Homo sapiens: one gene and its partner. The main gene of each other region encodes a partner of the protein of the gene in region 2 in a complex. Each region holds a gene or a part of one and is shown on either strand. Other genes may lie near its edges.

Region 1 (3,756 bases), on a different chromosome or scaffold from region 2:
CTGTTTTGAAGTAATTTCATGCACTTTCCCAATTACTCCTGCTCCATCTCTCCCAATGTTGTCTTAAATCTTTGCACTCAAATTCAAGCACATCCTACTCCTCCTGTTCTGAGTGACATATGGGCAACACTTTAAAAAAGAAAAGCTCTCTAGAAAATCTAGAGAGGTACGAGCGATGGCCCTTCTCCCATATTAGGAGTTAGATTTTTAGTATTCATCAATAAATACTGATGAGAAGAAACTGCTCTACTTTTACCAACATTCTTCAGGAAATTTATTAAGATTTTTATTAGCCACAGTATCTTTGTCAGCTTGGAAACATATATGTTTGTGAATCACATTTATTTAGTCTTTAGGTAAGTATATGGATTTTGATGATTCTTTGCAGTTACTCCTATCTCTCTATGGGTTTCTTGCCCATAGGATGGGAACCAGTACTCTAGGATTTGAAAATTAAGGTAGATACTGTTCACACTGGCAAATATTTAAGATGAATATTAAACGTGTATACTAAAATGTTTATTGGTAAGTAATTCATTAAATGGGAAGATATACTAGATGAAGTAAATAATTAAATTGCAAGCACAAGCAAATTAAATTTGAGATTTGGGAATGGTCTGTCATATACTTTTAAAGCAAATATCATACTGATAATGGAAGGACACGTGTCTTGTGGAGCTCAGTATCAGGAACAATATAGTTGGTCCTGCAGGGGACTAAACATGAGAACTGAAAGTCATTAGGAACACGAGCAGCCTCATTCCACTGTTCCAGGGACCTTATAATTTCTTTCTGTGTATTTATTTTATTTTCTTTTTGAGGACCGTCTGTCTGGCTGTTTGTATGTCGGCAGATATGTCTGCTCTAGACTTAGATACTTGCTTTAAGAATCCAAAAGAGATTGCATTATCTAATTGTCATTTATATCTAAAATTAAACAAACCATGAAGTTAGACATAGCTAAGATAACCACAGCTTTATTTCAGGTTAATTGCTTTTCTTAGATTGTTTTTATCAAGTGACAGCTAAAGAAAAGTCATCATTTGATGACACTAAGTATTAGTGCATTGTGATTGCGTTTCACAATATTAAGTGTTAGAAAGAACTATTAGACCTTAAGTATTTATAGAATGTGTCTGGAAGACACAGGGAGAGAAACTGTTAATGTTTCTACTGTAGTCTTTAGAGTTGCTTTTTTCACATCTTATTGCAGTTTACTATGTAATTTGGCAACAGCTATCAACATAGAGATTATATGTAATTACAGTGTACCCTTGAACAACTCAGGGGTTGGGAGTGCTGACCCCCATGCAGTTGAAAATCCATGTATAAGCTTTGACTCCTCAAAAGCTTAACCACTCATAGCCTGTTGACCAGAAGCCCTACCAATAGCATAAACAATTAACACATATTTGTATATGTACTATATGCTATATTCTTACAATACAATAAGCTAGAGAAAAGAAAATATTATTAAGAAAACCCTAAGAAAGAGCAAATATATTTATTGTTCATGAAGCGGAAGTGGGCCATCTTAAAGGTCTTCATCCTCATTGTCTTGGTGTTGAGTAGGCTCAGGAGGAGGAACAAGAGGAGAGGTTGGTCTTGCTGTCTTGGAGTGGCAGAGGCAGAAGAAAATCTGTGTATAAGTGGACCTGCACAGTTCACACTCATGTTGTTCAAGGGTCAGCTGTATGCATTTTTTTCTTAGAGGTAATCTGTTATTTGGGAATCAGGAAAAAAGTTTTAAAATTCATTTTTTAAAAATAAGTTCAGGTTATAACATTTAAGAAGTTTAATCTTGTTTTTTCAGACTTGCAGAAAATACTTTAGAAATGCTGACTCTAAAATTTATCTTTCATATGTTGCTGGTAGGAATGTAAAATGATATAACCACTCTGGAAATTAGTTTGGCAATTTCTCGAAAAGTTAAACGTACATTTGACACACAATCCAGCGATTGCACTCCTGAGCCTTTATCCTAGAGAAATAAAAACGTTCACAAAAAAACCTGTACATGAATGCTCGTAGAAGCCTTGTTTATAATAGCTAAAAACCAGAAACAACTCACATGTCCTTCAGTGGGTGAATGGTTAAATAAAATGTGATAGTCTTGCGGTAGAACACCACCATCAAAAAAAGAAACAAACTGTTGGTTCATGCAGCAACTTGGTTGGAGTTTAAGGGCATTGTATTGAGTGAAAAAAGCCAGTCTCAGAGATTGTATGATTCCATTTATATAGGATTCTCAAAATGACAAAATTATAGAAATGCAGAACAGACCGGTTTTGCTGGGGTTAGGGCTGACTTTCTTTGAGATGATAGAACAGTTCAGTGTCTTGTTTATGGTGATGGTTACATGAATCTGTACACATGACACAATGTCCTAGAATTAGACACACAAAAGAATGTAAAAGCTGACATTTCAATAAGTAGTTCAGTGATGAATATTGTATTAGTGTCACTTTCCTGCTTTTGATAATTGCACAGTGCTTGTCCATTTTATGGCTGTATCACATTTAACCATTTACCCATGGAAGGCCATGTGGGTTGTTTCTGGTTTTTGGTGATTGCAGGTAAAGCTGCTATGAACATTAATGTACAGGTTCTTTTGTGACTGTAAGTTTTAATTGTTCTAGAATAAATATCTAGAAATTCAACTGCTGGGTCATATAGTGATAAAACCTTGAGCCCTCTTATTCTGTCCCAGGTGGGGTGTAAATCATCCCTTTGTCCAGCATATCCACACTGTATACACTACCCACCAGCTAGTTAGTCACTCTTGGTTATCAGATTGACTGTCTGGTGTCTTGGTGCTTGTGTTTGAGAATCCCTTATTGTACTTAGTAGTGACCCCAAGTGCAAGACTAGTGATGCTGGCATTTTTTTTTTTTTTTTTTTTGAGGCAGGTCTCTTATCTTGTCCCCCAGGCTGGAGTGCAATGGTGTGATCTCAGCTCACTGCAACCTCCGCCTCCCAGGGTCAAGCGATTCTCTTGCCTCAGCCTCCCTAGTAGCTGGGTCACAGGCGCCTGCTGCCACGCACCGCAAATTTTTGCATTTTAAGTAGAGACAGGGTTTCACCATTTTGGCCAGGCTGGTCTCGAACTCCTGACTTCAGGTGATCCGCCTGCCTCTGCCTCCCAAAGTGCTGGGACTGCAGGGAGTGAGCCACCGCATCTGGCCGCTGACATATTGTTATAATTACTCTTAGTATTGTTGTTAATCTCTTAACTGGCTCCAATTTATAAATTAAGCTTCATCATAAGTATGTCTATCTAATGTATGTATAGGAAAAAACGTATTTATGTAGGGTTCGATACTCTCCATACTCTCCACCATTTAAGGTATCCACTGAGGGCTTTGGAATGTATCCCTCACAGATGAAGGGGGTGCTGCTGTGTTTGAGAGATACAGTTTCTCCACAACCTCACTACCATTTGGTATTGGTGATATTTTTTGTGCGTACTGGTATCTTGTCATGGCTTTAATTTGCATCCTAATGGCTGATGATTTCATGTGCTTATTTGCCATTCATATTTTTTTTGGTGATTTGTCTGTTCAAGTCTTTTACCCGTTTTGTGATTGGTTTGTTTTCTTACTGATTTTAGAGCATTCTTTATATGTTGTGTATACAAAATCCTTTGCCAAATATATGATTTGTAAATATATTCTCTCAGTCTCTGGCTTGTCTTTTCATTCTCTTAACAGTGTCTTTAGCAGCAAAAAAGTTTCAAATTTTGTTAAAGTCCAACTT
Region 2 (2,660 bases):
CCCCCACGCATGCACCCCCACCAACAGACTGACCCAGGCCTCACCTGTGTCCCAGCAGCCCTGCCTGCCACACATCACGAGCAGCGACCCCACCCCTGCGCTCAGCACCCTCCCTGGGCTTGCACCATTTGAGTGCCTCTGTCAGGTAAGGGCTGTTCCTGGTAGTTAGCTGTAATCACATCAGACTTAGGCTAGAACCGTGCAAGGGACTGAATGCTTCTGGGTGTGCATCCGTGCTGGGGTGCACATGTGTGTGCCTACTGGACTCAGCCAAACGCCATACCCTTGAGTCCAAAAGAAGGTTCTAGAGGCTTCCCAAGGACATCCTCAGGGCTGGGACTGACAAACGCTGCTGCCACCCCTGCAGCCCCCGAGGGTCTCTTCTGTCCACTCCTGCCAGCCAGCTTGGGGTGCTGTGTGTGATTTGGCTGAGCAACCCGAAGCTTTCCATGAGGAACGCAGGTGGCTGGAGCCTCCCCACCACCCTCACTGCCAGGGTGAACAACTACAGTCGAGGCAGAAATGACACAGACATGGTTCTGTACAAAACCTGAAATATTTTTACTTTTTTAAAACTTTGATCTAAGTTGCCTTAGACCTCATGGACTCGATACAAGAGTAATATGAATTGGGAAATAAAACACTTTAATAGCCACGATAAACTTTGTTAGAAATGTACATGTTGCCAAAATAATAATAATAAAATTAAAAAAAAGAGAGAGAGAGAACAGCTTGATGTCCAGGTTAGATTATATAAATGTTCAACAAGGGCAGGGTAAAGGAAACTTTAAAAACACCAGTTCTGAATAAGCCTGGGGCCCCGTGAGACTCCCCCTCTCCCACCCAGTCTCGGGCCCTAGGGACTGCGTCCCTCCAAACAGGACAAGTGGGAGTGGATAAGGCCTCCACCAAGCTGCCTCTCCCAGTGGACAAAAACATCCAGGTAATGGGTATATAAACAAAGCTCATAAGAAATGTACAAATATAAAAAGCTACAAACATTAATAAATTACAGCATCACAAAACACGGAAACACTTCACAAGGTGCTAGTAAAATAACTGTATCCCCCAATCCCCTCATCATACAAGGAAAACAAAGAGCTGGTATTAAAGTTGAAGATTCATCTTCAAAATGTGTCTGAAATAGATCTTTTGTGTACTATTTGCTTCTGTAAAGACAGAGTGTAAGGCTGCACAGACATCACTTGTTTTTCAGGCAATACCTTAGTTCTTAAAAGAAAAAAATAATAATAATAAAAGGAAAGGAGAAGGAAAAAGCATCAGAACCCAACTGTCCATCTGACTCAGCAAAAAACTCGTATAAATGTTAATGAAGAACTCTATAGAAAGAAATTCCTAAAGATACTTTTACTCTTATAAAAAAGAAGTTATTTAAAAAGCTATTTACACGCTACATTCTATGAAAAATATGCTTCAGGAAATACATCTAAAATTAAAATACAGGATTGCCTGAGAAACAAATCCAGCCCCTCCGTGTCGATGGTGGACACACCATCCAGGTACGACCCATGCAGGCGACACCACACGCTGACACGGGAGAACAGAGAAGTGCCGACCGTAAGTCCTCGGGCCGCCTGGCCACTGTCCCTGCCCCTGCCCCTGCCCTGCCAGTCCCAGGGCAGGGGTGCCTTGGCTGAGAAGTGCTTCTCCAGAGTGTGGCCAGCAGGGCAAGACGGTCCCTGCCACATGGCTTAGCCTGGGCCTCCCAGACCCCAAGATGTGGCTGAGCCCTTGCCCTTTCCTGGGGACCCCACAATGGCTCCCCTGCCCGCTAACACACCAACCCAGCTGCCAGTCTTAGCTGCCCCCCAGAAATGCTCCTGGGCATTCAGGCTGAACACCCACCATCCTGCTGCCACCTGCCAACCAGAAAGCTCGGGGCAGACCCTTCCTCACCCGCCGAGCACTGTCTGGACTTGGCTGAGAATCACTCAGGAAGAGAAGGGGGGACATAAACATCCCACTTGCTCCTCCTCTTTCTGTGTTCTTTGCCTTTTTTTTTAAGCCCCTGGAGGCTGCCAGCCTGTGGCCAGCTCTGACTCTGGGGCTGGTGAGCATTGGCTCACTCTGTCTTCCTTGAAGGACTCATGCTCTCAGCAGAGCTGCAGAGGCCCTGCAATCACACCCACGCTCAGGGGGCCTGAAGGCTGTCCTTAAAGTGGAATAAGCGGTCCTCAAACTTGCAGGGCCGCTTTTCTGGGACAGATCACTCTTAGCAACTTGAGAAAAGACGTCCATTTTCAAATTGAGGGGCCACGCTGGGCTCGCTCTGCCGGCTGAAGGGACAGACGCTTGTTGGGGAGATGGCAGCCGGGAAGAGGCAAGGCCCTCCCTGGTGAGGCAGCTCGGCACCCTCCTGGGAGGCAGATGTTTTCGCGGGGCTCCGGGGGTCCTGAGCGGAGCAGAAGGATCCTGGCTTTCCAAATCTTAAAGGAGTAGTTTCCCGTTCCGATGAATTTTCAAAATTTTCCCAAGCCTCTGCTTGGCGGTCGCCATGCCCTTTTTCGTACGTTTTCCTAGGGGAGTCGGGGAGGGGACACAAAAAGGGAAGGTAAGCTAGATGGCAAGGGGCGTGGCATGCCGGTGGGGGGGAGGGTCCCGCTGACACTAAGGGGCAGCCTGCAGTCCCCCATCTGTAA

Evidence for each region. The genes of interacting proteins can lie anywhere in the genome.
Region 1: the proteins of PHF2 (region 2) and VRK1 are in contact, whole or in part, in a crystal structure (PDB 8F8Y), measured with the Homo sapiens proteins. Residues at the interface, in NP_005383.3 of Homo sapiens: Tyr7, Tyr14, Val16, Thr17, Arg18, Phe19, Met20, Ile21, Glu22, Trp29, Glu39, Ala42, Ile45, Asp46, Tyr48, Lys64, Tyr145, Ser147, Glu150, Lys175, Val178, Asp179, Tyr182, Ser183, Thr184; in NP_003375.1 of Homo sapiens: Pro2, Arg3, Val4, Lys5, Ala6, Ala7, Gln8.

Annotation. Positions count from the first base shown.
Region 1 is NC_000014.9:96,800,287-96,804,042, forward strand, and holds part of VRK1 (serine/threonine-protein kinase VRK1), read left to right. Parts: intron 1-3,756. UniProt on the Homo sapiens protein: Serine/threonine kinase involved in the regulation of key cellular processes including the cell cycle, nuclear condensation, transcription regulation, and DNA damage response.
Region 2 is NC_000009.12:93,677,465-93,680,124, reverse strand, and holds the end of PHF2 (lysine-specific demethylase PHF2), read right to left. Parts: intron 2,538-2,660; coding exon 2,449-2,537; 3' UTR 538-2,448; downstream 1-537. UniProt on the Homo sapiens protein: Lysine demethylase that demethylates both histones and non-histone proteins. Enzymatically inactive by itself, and becomes active following phosphorylation by PKA: forms a complex with ARID5B and mediates demethylation of methylated ARID5B.